3 linked regions of the Homo sapiens genome follow. The protein of the gene in region 3 interacts with the protein of the main gene of each other region in a pairwise test. Each region holds a gene or a part of one and is shown on either strand. Other genes may lie near its edges.

Region 1 (3,859 bases), on a different chromosome or scaffold from region 3:
CTCCATCTCAAAAAAAAAAAAAAAAAAAAAAAAAGGAATTATTTACTGACTGGGCTGGAATGATACTTCTTCAGGTTACCAGACAAGCCTAAGAAACGGACAGGCTAGTGGTTGACGAAGGTGAAGAGGGCCAGGGATGGTGGCAATGAGGGTCCAGTGGCACCTGGACAACAAGCAGGCCCACAAGGGGGCAACGTGATTGGCTAAAGACCAACCAGGGCCAGAGGATGCTAGGCTACCCTCCAGCCAGAGAATCCCTGCACTGTAACAAAAGTTCCTATTACTACTCCAATCCTTAAAATTACTTCATTATTTTACTCTCTTCTGCAATCTTTGATAAATCAAGATCAAGACAATATTTAAAATATAGGCCAATCACCATTTACTGAAGACACCTAAAAAGCCCAATAGCAAGACAGTTTGGATAATAAAATTAAATTCCTATTTAATTGTTTTTGTGTAATTATTCAGGAAGTTTTCCTTCATGTATACCAATGTTTAAATCCTTAAATTATTAAAAACCCAAAAGTTAGAATATTGTGTTAGATTTCTACCAATATAGAAACTGAATTTGAAGATAACAACCATCATATAATATTAATTTGCTGAGCCACTTATTTATTGATTACTTTATTGACAGGGTCTCACTCTGTCACCAAGGCTGGACTGCAGTGGCGTGATCATGGCTCACTGCAACCTCTACCTCCCATGCTCAAAAAATCCTCCCACCTCAGCCTCCCAAGTAGCTGGGACTACAGGCACACACCACCACAACTGGCTAATTTCTGTATTTTTTCGGAAGAGAGGGCATTTCACCATGTACCCCAGGCTGTTCTCGAACTCCTGGGCTCAAGCAACCTGCCCGTCTCAGCCTCTCAAAGTGCTAGGATTACAGGCATGAGCCACTGCACCCAGCCTACTGAGCTACTTTAAAAACTACCACGTGAAAACAGTACTTTTAAAACAAAGTCATATCTTAAAAGACATACTTACCAGTTATAACCAAGAGTAGAGTCATAAAAGTTTCTGCACAATCTGGAACTTTCATTTCATCCACGTCAGTGATATCCTTATATTGCGATACCCAGGCAGCTTCTGAGGAAAGCATTGAGTCCATTTTTTGAAGAGCAACTGATAAGCAGACAAAACAATTATGTCAATTAAGTAGTTACAGTCGTTCCTAATTATTCAACTTGTAATTTTTTAGGAATGATGGCTTTTCTATAAAAAAGAAACAAACCTACAATATCCCACTGGTTGTACTAAATTTAACTTAATTAATGCTTTAAACAGGATACTTTACTCCCATCCCCAAATTCTGAAAATAGTTATGTTGACTAGATAAGCTACAGTAAAAAATATTCTATTGGCCAGGCACGGTGGCTCACACCAGTAATCCCAGCACTCCAGGAGGCCAAGGTGGGTGGATTGCTTGAGTCTAGGAGTTCACAACCAGCTTGGGCAAAACCCCAGGGAAACCCCATCTCTACAAAAAATACAAAAAGTAGCCAGGCATGGCTTGCATATACCTATACTCCCAGCTACTGGGGTGGCTGAGGCAGGAGGATCACCTGAGCCCCAGAGGTCGAGGCTGCAGTAAGCCATGATCGGCCCACTCCACTCTAGCCTCGGTGACAAAGTGAGACCCTATCTCAAAAATAAAAAAATAAAATATTCTGACACTTTGGGAGGCCAAGGCAGGTGGATTACTTGAAGTCAGGAGTTCCAGACCAGCCTGGCCAACATGTTGTAACCCTGTCACTCCTAAAAACAGAAAAATTAGCCAGGCGTGGTAGTGCGTGCCTGTAATCCTAACTACTCGGGAGGCTGAGACAGGAGAATCGCTTGAACGCAGGGGGTGGAGGTTGCAATGAGCTGAGATCAAACTACTGCACTTTAGCCTGGACAACAGAGCAAGAGTCTGTCCCAAAATAAATAAATAAAAATAAAATAAATTATATGATAAAATCTATAAAACAAACACCCCACTGGCTTGACTATTCCACTCTAGAAATATGTAGAGTGTAATTTCAGGAAAAATGGAAGTTTCATGTGAAGTAAAGAAAAGATTATCTCTGAAGGAAACAGAAAACCCTGAAAAGGAAATTTCAAATGGCTCTAGTTCCTATTTAGAACTGGAGAAGAAAAATATCAAAAATGTATACCCACAGAAACAGACATATCTCCCTACCATCTGGCCACATCAGCACTTACATTTTCTCTCCACCGTCAACCATCTCTGAAAACAGGTTTCCTCTGATAGAATATGCATACAACTAGCAAAAGTGCCAGGATAGCCATGAACACTGTGTAGCTCCCTTTCAAACAAGAGTACTTCATCCACCAAATGACAGAAGAGATTGTCATCATATAGCAGACAAGGAATATCAGTGGCTAACTTCTCAAGAACCAGCATCATAAGGCCCCGAGAAAATTCAAGCTAAAAAAATACACAAACATGAGGTATGTAAATAAAAAGTTATCCATGCACACATACAGTTCTAAAACAGAAACACTTATGACTGAGTCTCTTACCCTTGCGTTTACCAAAGAGCCTACTTTGTCTAATATTGGCTGAATCTTCTCATCCAGAAATTCAGTATGGTTTCCAATCCACATAAGTACTTGAGCCAAGTACCATTCTGGCTAAGGAAGGAGGAAAATAGTTTGAATTCTTAAGTCATTCCAATTAGAAAGTTACAATTACATGGTTCTATTTAATTGTATATGCACAACACTTATAAAAATTAGTTGAAAATTCCTGTATGTAAGAGCACAATTTCTACTCCAAATTTTAAACTCCTGCAAGGCTTAATAATCAAATGTTTGCTAATGTACTCCCAACAAATTTCAATAATATGACTTAAGTCAATAAACTCATAAATTTACAATGCCATATATATTTAAAACCTAGCACTTCAATAATATGTAAAATGATGAGTATTACAAAGAACTGATGGCCTATATTTTTTGAAATAGCATTTGAAAATAATTTTAATATTATTTTCTTATGGTTTTTATTTTCAAAAAGTAAATCAAGAAAAAAATTGCTGGCCAGGCGTGGCAGCTCATGCCTGTAATCCCAGCACTTTGGGAGGCCGAGGTGGGTGGATCAGCTGAGGTCAGAAGTTCAAGACCAGACTGGTCAACATGGTGAAACCCCGTCTCACCTAAATATACAAAAATTAGCTGGGCGTGGTGGTGGGCACCTGTAATCCCAGCTACTCAAGAGGCTGAGGCAGGAGAATCGCTTGAACGCGGGAGGCAGAGGTTGCAGTGAGCCGAGATCACACCATTGCGCTCCAGCCTGGGCAACAAGAGTGAAACTTCGTTCCAAAAAAAAAAAATTGCTAGTCTGCATTACAAAAACTACGCATGTCTTATACAGGTTTAAGAGCAGAAATACCAAGTACATGCCAGGCGCAGTGGCTCACTCCTGTAATCCCAGCACTTTGGGAGGCTAAGTCAGGTGGATCACCTGAGGTCAGGAGTTCCAGACCAGCCTGACCAATATGGTGAAACCCATCTCTACTAAAATTACAAAAATTAGTCCAGTGTGGTGACATGTGCCTGTAGTCCCAGCTACTTGGGAGGCTGAGGCAGGAGAATCGCTTGAACCTGGGAGGTGGAGGTTGCAGTGAGCAGAGATTGTGCCACTGCACTCCAGCCTGGGTGACAGAGCGAGACTCCAACTCACAAAAAAAAAAAAAGAAAAGAAATACCAAGTGCTTACTATTTGCTTTGCTTTGTTTTGCAATGATAACTCAGCAATATCTGATGCCCAAGAGCGGAAATACCATTTTTCCTACAGTATATGAACACAAGTCCTCAATTATATGTATGAACAGCAGTAACAAAA
Region 2 (3,859 bases), on a different chromosome or scaffold from region 3:
AAAAAAAGGCCGGGCGCAGTGGCTCACGCCTGTAATCCCAGCACTTTGGGAGGCCGAGGCGGGCGGATCATGAGGTCAGGAAATCGAGACCATCCTGGCTAACACGGTGAAACCCCATCTCTACTAAAAATACAAAAAATTAGCTGGGCCTGGTGGCGGGTGCCTGTAGTCCCAGCTACTCGGGAGGCTGAGGCAGGAGAATGGTGTGAACTCAGGAGGCGGAGCTTGCAGTGAGCTGAGATCGTGTCACTGCACTCCAGCCTGGGCAACAGAGCAAGACTCCGTCCCACAAAAAAAAAAAAAAAAAAAAGTCAGTTTCCTGAGGCCCACTAGCAATTAAAGACTTCAGAATGAAAAGGAACTAAAGGCAGACAAATGTCACATGCAAACGTTCTTATATTGGCTTTGAGTCTCTAGAACTCCATTCTAGAATCAGGTACCAGTTCTGAACTGATCTATAAGCCGTAATGTGCGGAAAGATCTGCTGTGAAGAAAAAAAAGTGATGGGCGCAGTGGCTCATGCCTGTAATCCCAGCACTTTAGGAGACCGAGGTGGGCAGATCACTTGAGGTGAGGAGTTCGAGACCAGCTTGGCCAACATGGCGAAACCTATCTCTACTAAAAATACAAAAATTAGCTGGACATGGTGGCTCGCACCTATAGTCCCAACTACTCAGGAGTCTCAGGCAGGAGAATTGCTTGAACCTGAAATCGCACCACTGCACTCTGGCCTGGGTGACAGAGCAAGACTCCATCTCAAAAAAAGAAAAAGTTCCTCTGGACTTGAAAATAAAGTAAGTAAGGCTTCTTCTGAACAATACTTAAATTAATCGAGATGAGGAGAAAGAGGCCAGAGACTACAGAACAACGCTCTTTGTGATCTCGGTTTTCCCATCTATGTAATGGGAACACTTTCTGAAGATCTGTCAAATTAACAGTGTAGAGCACCATCCGCTCCATGCCTGGAACTGTGCCCCACACGGAAGCATGCACACAGTAAACAAAGGACAGTCTTTTCTCACTGAGCTCTTACAGATTTAGAGGCCAGGTAAAGGACTGCAGGGGAACGGCAGAGTGATCATGCCTCCAGAGGAGGAGGGTTCTGAGATAGGTGGAGCAGCAAGGGAAGTTCTCTTAGATGAAGAGGGGCTTGGCTGACGCAAAAAGACAGGTCAGATTTAGAGAGGCAAGAGTGGAGGTGGCAAAGAGATGCACCACGAAATTGCCAATGTGACAACGGAGGGAACTGACAACAATTAAATCAACACTAGCTGGGGAACGGCTTCTTGCTAAGTGATTTACAACCCTTCTCATTTAATTCTCAGGGTAATTCAGTTAAAAAACAAGGAATTAGAGACACTGAGAGATGAGTGATTTACCTAAGGCCAAAACAAGAAGTCTGTGAGCCCCGCTGCCTGGCTGAAGGAAAGGACCTGGAAGGGAAAGGAGCAGACGAGGCTAGGGAAGGAAGAATGAGATTCAGAAATGGTTCTGGATGCCAGGTGTGTTGGGTCCTGCCAGGAGAAGACACAATGGTCATGTCAAATGACAAGTCTCATGCTGATAAGCATTTGACACTACTGATCACTCCCTCCTTCCTGAAAACCTGTCTTCCCTCAAATGCTAGGATGCCATGCTCTCTGCCTGCCCTCCTACGCCACTGTCTGCGCCTTCTCAGTCTCCTTTGCTTGTTCCTCTCCTTCTCCTTCAACACTGTGTGCCCCAGGGCTCAGGCCTGGTACCTCTTCTCTTCCCCATCTATGCTATTTTGCCTCTTTGGTGGATCATCCGGTATCACAGCTTTACATACCATCCACATAGCCCAACCTCTCCCCAGAACCCCCGGGCACACATGTCCAAACTGTGTAACTGACATCTCCACATTACTGTGGAGATGACTAGCAGGCAGCTCAAACAATGGGATAAAAACTGACCTCCTGCTTCCTTCCTTTCCCCAACTGGCTCACCCTGCAGTCTACATCATCTAGTTCCTGCCAGCACCATCTTTAAGAGGGCCTCAGGCTAAAAACCTGAGTCACTCTTAACAACATACTCTCCTTTAAATCTATCGGCAAATCCTATTGGATTCCGACCTTCAAAATGAATCTAGAATCCATGAGCAGCTTCTCACTAGCTCCATCACTAACCCCAGCTCCAAGCCAGCATCACCTTCCATTTAGAGTGCTAACAAAGCTGCTCCCACACTGCTTTGCTGACACCCCATCTCAGCAACAGCCAGGATGATCCTCTTACAGTCCAAATCAGACAGTAGCACCCCTCTGCTCAACGTCTTCCAACGGTTCTCTGTCTTACTCATAGTAAAAGCCAAAGTCCCTACCATGGCCTCATAGCCCACAGGTCCTATAAGAGATGCATGCCCCTCCTCTCTCACGCATGCACCCTGCTGGCCATTACCCTTTGAACTCTTCTCCCCATCATTCCCTCAGCTCCAGCCGCACAGGCCTCTTTACTGATCCTCGAACACAACATGCATCCACCCCAGGGCCTTTGCCCGTGCTATTCACTTTGCTAGGAAGGCTCTTTCTCCAGACAGCCTCATGGCTCAGTCCCTCACCTCTTTAGGTCTTGGCTCAAATGTCATCTTCTCATTGAGGCCTTCTTTGACCATTTTATTTAAAATTGTATACCCCTCCCCCATAATCCCCACCACTTCCTAACCCTCTTTGCCCTTTTTCCCTTCAAAGTACTTATTACCTATTACCTACACACTATAAAATATACTTACGTTGTCTATTCTTTCTCCCCCTATAAATTCCCTAATGTAAATGGGGGTAAGGATTTTGTCCATTTTGTTCACTATCATATTCCTGACTCCTAGGCTGGTACCTGGCAAACAGGTGTTCAATAAGTAGCTGAATGACCAGTGCTCAACTCTCTTCTTGGGCAAATTTCATGTTTTGTAAACCAACCTCTGCTAGAGCAGCTTCTCCATGTTCCATTCACGGGGTTATCCAGGATCAGAGATACATCTGCTCTGATTGTCAAGCTATTCTAACTATACTGAAATTGAACATGCCAGACCCCTAGCACATTTACAGCCAATAAATGGAAGTTAAGTGAATAAATTATGAGAGAGAGAAGAAATGGCAAGGGTAGAAGATCAGGTGGCAACATCTCCAGTGGGAGAAACGTTCAGTGAGGCCAAGTCACTCTCACCTGCTCCCATAGGTATCAGCTCAGAGTGACAGAGCTGCAGAAGGTGGGGGGCTCTGGCACAGGATATAAGTACCAGGTCCTTGCCTCCAGGCCCACATGCCTTCTTTGTTCCTCTAACAGCCAACTCTTCACTATCTCTACCCTTGCTGATCCTTCTGCTTGGATTATCCTCTCCTAACTGCTCCAATTTATCCTTCAAATCTCAGCTTAGATGATCTCATTTCAAAGATAACTTCCCTTCAGCGTGATACCTCTGATGCTTAAAAAAAGAAACAAAAAAAAAATACCTTTCCTACATGTACTATCTTTTTTGTTGTTGTTGCTAGAGACAGATAGTCTTGCTCTGTCACCCAGGCTAGAGTGCAGGGGTGTGATCATAGCTCACTGCAGCATCAAACTACTGGGCTCAAGCAATTCTGCTTCAGCCTCCTGAGTAGCTGGGACTACAGGCGTGTGCCATGCCCAGCTAATCTTTTCAAGTTTTTTGTGGAGTCTCGCTAAATTATCCAGGCTGGTCTTGAACTCCTGGCCTCAAATGATCCTCCCACCTCAGCCTCCCAAGTAGCTGGGATTACAGGCATGAGCCACGGCACCTGGCCATGCATGTACAACCTTAAGAAGGTATTTCTCTGTCCACATCCTTCAGTGTTCTTATTCATACATTTCCTGAGCATCTTTCGTG
Region 3 (5,732 bases):
AATCCAAGGTATCCTGAGAAACCAGCCCACCCACCCACAGGAATTGGGGGGTGGGGTGGACAGTCCTATTTCTGTAGGGGTTGTGGGGCAGAGGAGGAGAGCAGGTGGTGATAGCCAGAGACCAGAAAAAGAACCATTGGCCTTATATGTATGGGGTGCTTTGAAGAAAAATTTCTGGATTAGGGGTGTCAGAAGCAATCTGGACTGGGCAAGATGGTGGATGACCAAGATGGTGGACCACCTTCTCTAGGCAGTTTAAAGAAGGGTAGAGGCACCCTTCTTCTTGGGAGTGAGTGAGGAAAGAAGGGTCAAGGAGATGCTGGGGTCCCCTTCCAGGGAGGAGTGACGAGAGGTGGTGGAAGCAGAGATTTTTGAGAGGCACCTAACCTTCAGGGATCTGTTGTTTGAATGTATGAAAAAGGAAGAGGGAAAATGGCTGGAATATGAGGAATCGAGGATAGACATTGTTATAGGCTGAACTGTGCCCTCCCCCACTCCACACACACACACAAAGATAGGTTGAAGTCCTCCAAACCTCAGAATGTTACCTTGTTTTGAAACAGGATCTTTACATAGGTAATCAAGTTAAAATGAAGGTCATTAGGGTGGGCTCTAATCCAGATTGCTGACTTACAAAAAGAGGAAATTTGGACACAGAGACAAATGCATACAAAAGAAAATGTGCAGACCTATCACCCAAAGAACATGTGAGGCTACCAGAGGCTAGGAGACAGGCATGGAACAGATTCTGTCTCATGGCCGTCAGAAGGAACCAACACTGCTGACACCTTGATTTCAGACTTCTACCTCCTGAACTTTGAGATAAATGTCTGTTGTTTCAGCCACCTACTTTGCGGTGCTTCATTAGAGCAGTACTAGGAAACTAATGCAGACATCAAAAAGGACCTGATCACTTTTTAGGGCTAAAAGGAAGAAAATCTAACACAGACTTTCATTCAATTCCCTTCCCTCCCTTCTTCTTTCCTTACCTGTCAGTCTATGAAGCATTTTTTTGACCACTGGATAATCTTCAGGGAGATCATCCTCTGAATTAGATGACTTGGATGTTGGGACTTCAAATCTACACAGATGAGGGGAAGGGTCAGGAAATCAGCCCTCTGATCCTAATGCCCCCACGCATACCCCACTCACATCTCTGGAGGAAGAAGGGATGAGACTATACCCCAGAAAACCTGCCTATTAATGGGAACAAAGGTGTGGGCCCAGTGAGAACGTGATGGCTATGGCAGCTGGTGAGAAAAGGAGGGAACAGAAAAGTGGAACTCACCGTCTCCATGTCTTCCTCATATCCTAGGATGGGCAGAAACAAACATGGATGTGAGCTCTGGGCTTCATTCCCTGGGGCATCCTTCCCTATCTCTCCCCTCCTCAGGTGAGTTCTGTCTGAGTTAGCAGTGTCCCTCCTCACCTTTCAGAGTGATCTCACCTCTTTACACACTGTGCTCCTTTCCCTCTCATTCTCCTCCTTCACCTTTCATGATCCCTCCTTCCTCTCACCCCATCACTTTTCCCTCATCCTCCTAACTCCATCCCCACTGTCCTCCCCCTTTCCACTCCCCAAGGGTTCTCAATTCTCTTTTCCCAGGCTCGTCCGTGACTGTTTCTTGTCCTCAGAGCCCTTGCCTTCCTTGCTGCCTCCTCAGTCCCATTCTCTGTCTCTTTCAGCGGCCCCATCCTTATCTACCTTCCCCAGTGCATCCCAGAAAAACATCTGTCCCTTCCTCCCTCCATCACACAGACCAAACACACACCCAGAGCCCTCGGGCTAAGAGTTGGTATATAAAAGCCTTACAATAAAGCTGCTTCCCCTCTTGCAATAAAAGCCCAGTGGCATTTATTGGGCCCTTTGCTTTGTGTCTCTGGACCCTGGCCAGGGAGGCAGCTAGACTTGAATGTGTCCCAAAAGGCCCAGCAGATCCACAGAGTACTATGGGAGCCAGGAGAGGGCACTGGATGCTCCCCTCCAAACACTGGGATACCGACCCCTCCACTTCACTGTCTAGTGCTGATGGCTGGAGCAGGCCGATATGGTGGAGCGGGGGAGAGAGAAACAATTTGCATAATTGTGCCAATTACTTTCAGACTAATTAGGTCTATGAAGACTTCAAAGGGCAGAAGCAAGACCCAAGACCAGCTTGGCTGCTGGGAAGAAGCCAGTCAGGAGTCCCAGACGCCCAGGGGTCGGTCGGGCAAGGGAATGGGCTGGTTAGTGGCCAAGGAGCCGGGGCCCAGGAGAGGCGCGGGGGGTAGATGGGTGGTAAGACTGGGATGTGGAGAGGAGCCAGAGGCCCCAGCGGCTGTTCTCCCGCACCTCGCCTCCACCCCTGGCCGCTCCTGCCTGGGGCCTTGGGAGGAGCCGAAATAACAATAACAAACAACACAGGGCTTAGCTTGAGCCAGAGTCCGAGACCAACCCCCACGACGCTACGGGGAGGTTTGGATATGCCCCAACCCCTTGCTCCCTTCCTCCATCCTCTTGTCAGTCCCCTCCTCCCCAGCTTTTTCTCCGCCCCCAACCCACCAGCCCAGCCTCCTGCTCCCGCTCCTCTAAGCAGGTTCTGCCCTCGCCCACCATCCTCCCAGGACCCCTCCTCACCCTCAGCTGGGTCGGCTCTCCCTTCCGCCCGCCGCTCCCTCCCCTCCGCCAGCTCTCCTCCTCCCGGGCGCCTGCGGCTGCCCTGCCAAAACTTCTGCAGTTCCCATGCCCTTCGCGGCGACTCCAGGGCTCTCCGCGTTCTATCCGGTACCCCTTCTCTGCCTCCCCAGTCTCTTCTCTCCAGCCCCTCTCACAAGGCTCAGGCATCGGTCCAGCCTCCTCCCCTGTGGACCAAGTGTCAACTCCATCCATCGTCCTTCCGGGCGCCTCTCACCTTGAGGACCCAGGGTCCTCGCCCCCTCATCCTTTGCTTTTCTCTCCCCACCCCATCCTTTGCCTAAACTTCCACAGGGCCTCCGGCTCCAGACGTGCCATTCCCGGCTTCCCCGGGAACCTCCCGCTTCCACCAACAACTCCGCGACGCGCGCCCAGCCTCACCTCTCCGGGCAGGTCCAGGCAGCCCATGGTGGGGATGCGCCCCCCTCGGCGTCTCCCCGCACGGGCCCCAGGCTCAGCCAGCTTCTCTCGCAGCTCGCGGCTGATTCGCACCTCCACCGCCAGCCGCACATTAGACCTCAGGCTGCGGCGGGGACACGGCAGGCCGCAGCAGGGACAGGCGGTGGGGGAAGCCTCGGTGCCGGTCGCCGGCGGAGTCCCCCAGCGGCGGGCCAGACACGCGCGGCAGAAGCTGTGCTCGCACGCCAGAAGCACCGGGTCCTCGAAGGAGCCCCCGCACAGAGGACACGTCGCCAGCTGCTCCAGACGCTCCACCAGCCCCGGGCCCAGCTCGGGCGCATCCATGGAAAGCCAGGATCTGGACGCCGCCCCTTCCGCGACCACCGTGACCGCCTTCGAGCGCGCAGATGGCGGGCCGCCCCTGCTGCTTGCTGTGTAGATGCCCTTCTCTCCGACTCCCGCATTAACTTTTGCCGCTTTCCGCCCCTCTCCTGGGATTGCCTCTCTCTTCAACCAGAGTCTCAGTCTCGTCAAATCTCTCCACCACATCAGGCTTTATAGGGAGGGAGGAGGCTCCCACGGGAGGTAAACACCAGGCCTTGCGTAACGCCTCATCTGGTTCTCCTGCTTCCCGGGTAAGGTTTGGGGGAGCAGGGAGGGGAGAATAGCACACCTGGTTCCCAGAGCCTAGGAGGCGGTCACTAGAGGGCGCTCTGGGGCGGGGTAGCCCTGTGTGGGGAGGGTAGCCCCCTGTGACCCCCCGAAGAGCCCCAATTTTACCTTCCCCTCCGCCTGTGGTACGCGCATGGGCCGGGTGCCCAGGCTCACTCTTGGCATGTGCGCCCACATTGCCAAGGTGCGAGTCATTCCAGGTGGCTGGCACACCTACATCTGGGGGCTGGGGGCCGGAAGCACAGATCCTGGTTTGTGTGGCTTTGGCAAGCCTCTGAGTGTTGATGTGTGGTTTTCATTCCTGGTGCCTCTCGCCTTTCCATCTTCCTTCCTTACCTATTAAGGGCTTAAGGGCATTCTGCAGCTCTGGGGTAAGGGGTGGGGAGCAGGCGCCCACACTTCGGCCTCAGGGAGTCGGGGCAGAGCTCTTTCAGCTCTACCTCTGGCCAGCTCCCAGGGCCTCTCCTTACTTTCTTCGTAAGTCTCTCTTTCTGGTTCTTTCTCTCTGTTTTTCCCCGTGTGTGATTTTATTACCAGTTTTCTCTTTCCTTCCTTCTTTGGAATGTACCCGGTATTATCTATTTCAACTCTGGTAGTTCACAGAGGCCCAGAGAACTGGAATAGCCAAGGTCACATAGCAAGGGAATGACCAGAAGTGGAGCCCTACCCTGGTCTTCTGACTTGTGTTCTTGCTGTGAGTCAACCCTGCCTTTTTCAGTTGCAGATCCCTGGGACCCCCTCCTGCTTCCTGATTTTTTTCTGGTGTTCCTTTGTGCCTTCATTCCTCACCTCCATTCTCTCTTTTTCTCCTTACCTGCTCCTCTCCCCACCTCTCCTCTTCCTCCCTGCTCCCTCCTCTTCCTAGCTTCTCTACCCTTCCAATGCCAGGCCTAGCTAACTGGATACTCATGGGGGTTTGTGCATAAGTAAACATCCAGATGTCTACAACTATGATCACCCACACTGTTATATAACATGTGTCTGCATCCATCAGTGTCCAAATGCCCAAATGTGCACAAACTTGCAGACAGAAGCATTCATGTAATACAAACATCACAGCTAAATATAATGTGTATGAATAGCCTCATATGCATTGAATATCACTGGGATAAATGTCCAGTATTATTTAGGAACAGACGGACATGCTCAAAGAAAACAGGCAAAGAGACAGATACTCTATCATCAGTTTTATTATTAATAAGAATAACAGTATAACAGCAGTAAGTCTTTATGGAGCAGCAGGACTTTATTAGGCACCCCCTCCAGGCACTCTTCTTCTGCCTCCCCCATACTTATCGGGGAGACACTCAAATATGACACCCTGATAAACAAACCTACACAAACAAACACACGTACATTCATCTTGGAACAACCCTCCCGGCTCAGTGCTCATAAAACACACAGATACCCAAGCATAAGACTACAGTTGTGACTGAAATCTATTTTGTAAAAGATGCACTTCTATGCTCTGATAGGTAGCATAGAGAGATAGCAGCATGAGAAGTGATCGGCCTGACATTGCTGGCTTTGGAGACTGAGGCAGGAAGCCACAAGCTAAGGAAGTGGGTAACCTCTGGAAGCTGCAAAAGACGAGGGAATGGATTCTCTAGCAGACCATTCAGAAGGAACCTAGCACTGCTGACACCTTAATTTTTGCCCAGTAAGACCCATTTCAGACTCTGAACTACAGAATAATAAAGTAACAAATGTGTATTGTTTCAAGCTCCTAAGTTTGTGGTAATTTGTTACAGTATCAATAGGAAACTAATACACAAGATTGCCTTTTCTCCTCCAGTCTCTGACTCTCTGAGTCTGTTTGCACTTCTGTGTTGTTGCACCTTCCAGTTTGTCATATTTTCTGGATGTCTCTGCCTCTCTTGACCTTCTTTTCAGTCTCATGTTATCTCTTTTCCTTCATTGTCCTGGCTTATCCCCAACTCCAAGGCCTCTCAGGATCTTTTTGGATCTGGGCTTGAAGTACTGGAGA

Evidence for each region. Proteins that work in one complex are often made in the same cells at the same time.
Region 1: the proteins of RNF39 (region 3) and RINT1 interact in binary tests that used the Homo sapiens proteins (3 or more experiments, as listed by UniProt).
Region 2: the proteins of RNF39 (region 3) and AP1B1 interact in binary tests that used the Homo sapiens proteins (3 or more experiments, as listed by UniProt).

The regions. Positions count from the first base shown.
Region 1 is NC_000007.14:105,548,842-105,552,700, reverse strand, and holds part of RINT1 (RAD50-interacting protein 1), read right to left. Parts: exon of another isoform or gene 3,734-3,859; intron 2,647-3,733; coding exon 2,536-2,646; intron 2,441-2,535; coding exon 2,215-2,440; intron 1,132-2,214; coding exon 994-1,131; intron 1-993. UniProt on the Homo sapiens protein: Involved in regulation of membrane traffic between the Golgi and the endoplasmic reticulum (ER); the function is proposed to depend on its association in the NRZ complex which is believed to play a role in SNARE assembly at the ER.
Region 2 is NC_000022.11:29,378,571-29,382,429, forward strand, and holds part of AP1B1 (AP-1 complex subunit beta-1), read right to left. Parts: intron 1-3,859. UniProt on the Homo sapiens protein: Subunit of clathrin-associated adaptor protein complex 1 that plays a role in protein sorting in the late-Golgi/trans-Golgi network (TGN) and/or endosomes.
Region 3 is NC_000006.12:30,072,168-30,077,899, forward strand, and holds the start of RNF39 (RING finger protein 39), read right to left. Parts: upstream 3,603-5,732; 5' UTR 3,419-3,602; coding exon 3,056-3,418; intron 1,312-3,055; coding exon 1,289-1,311; intron 1,082-1,288; coding exon 990-1,081; intron 1-989.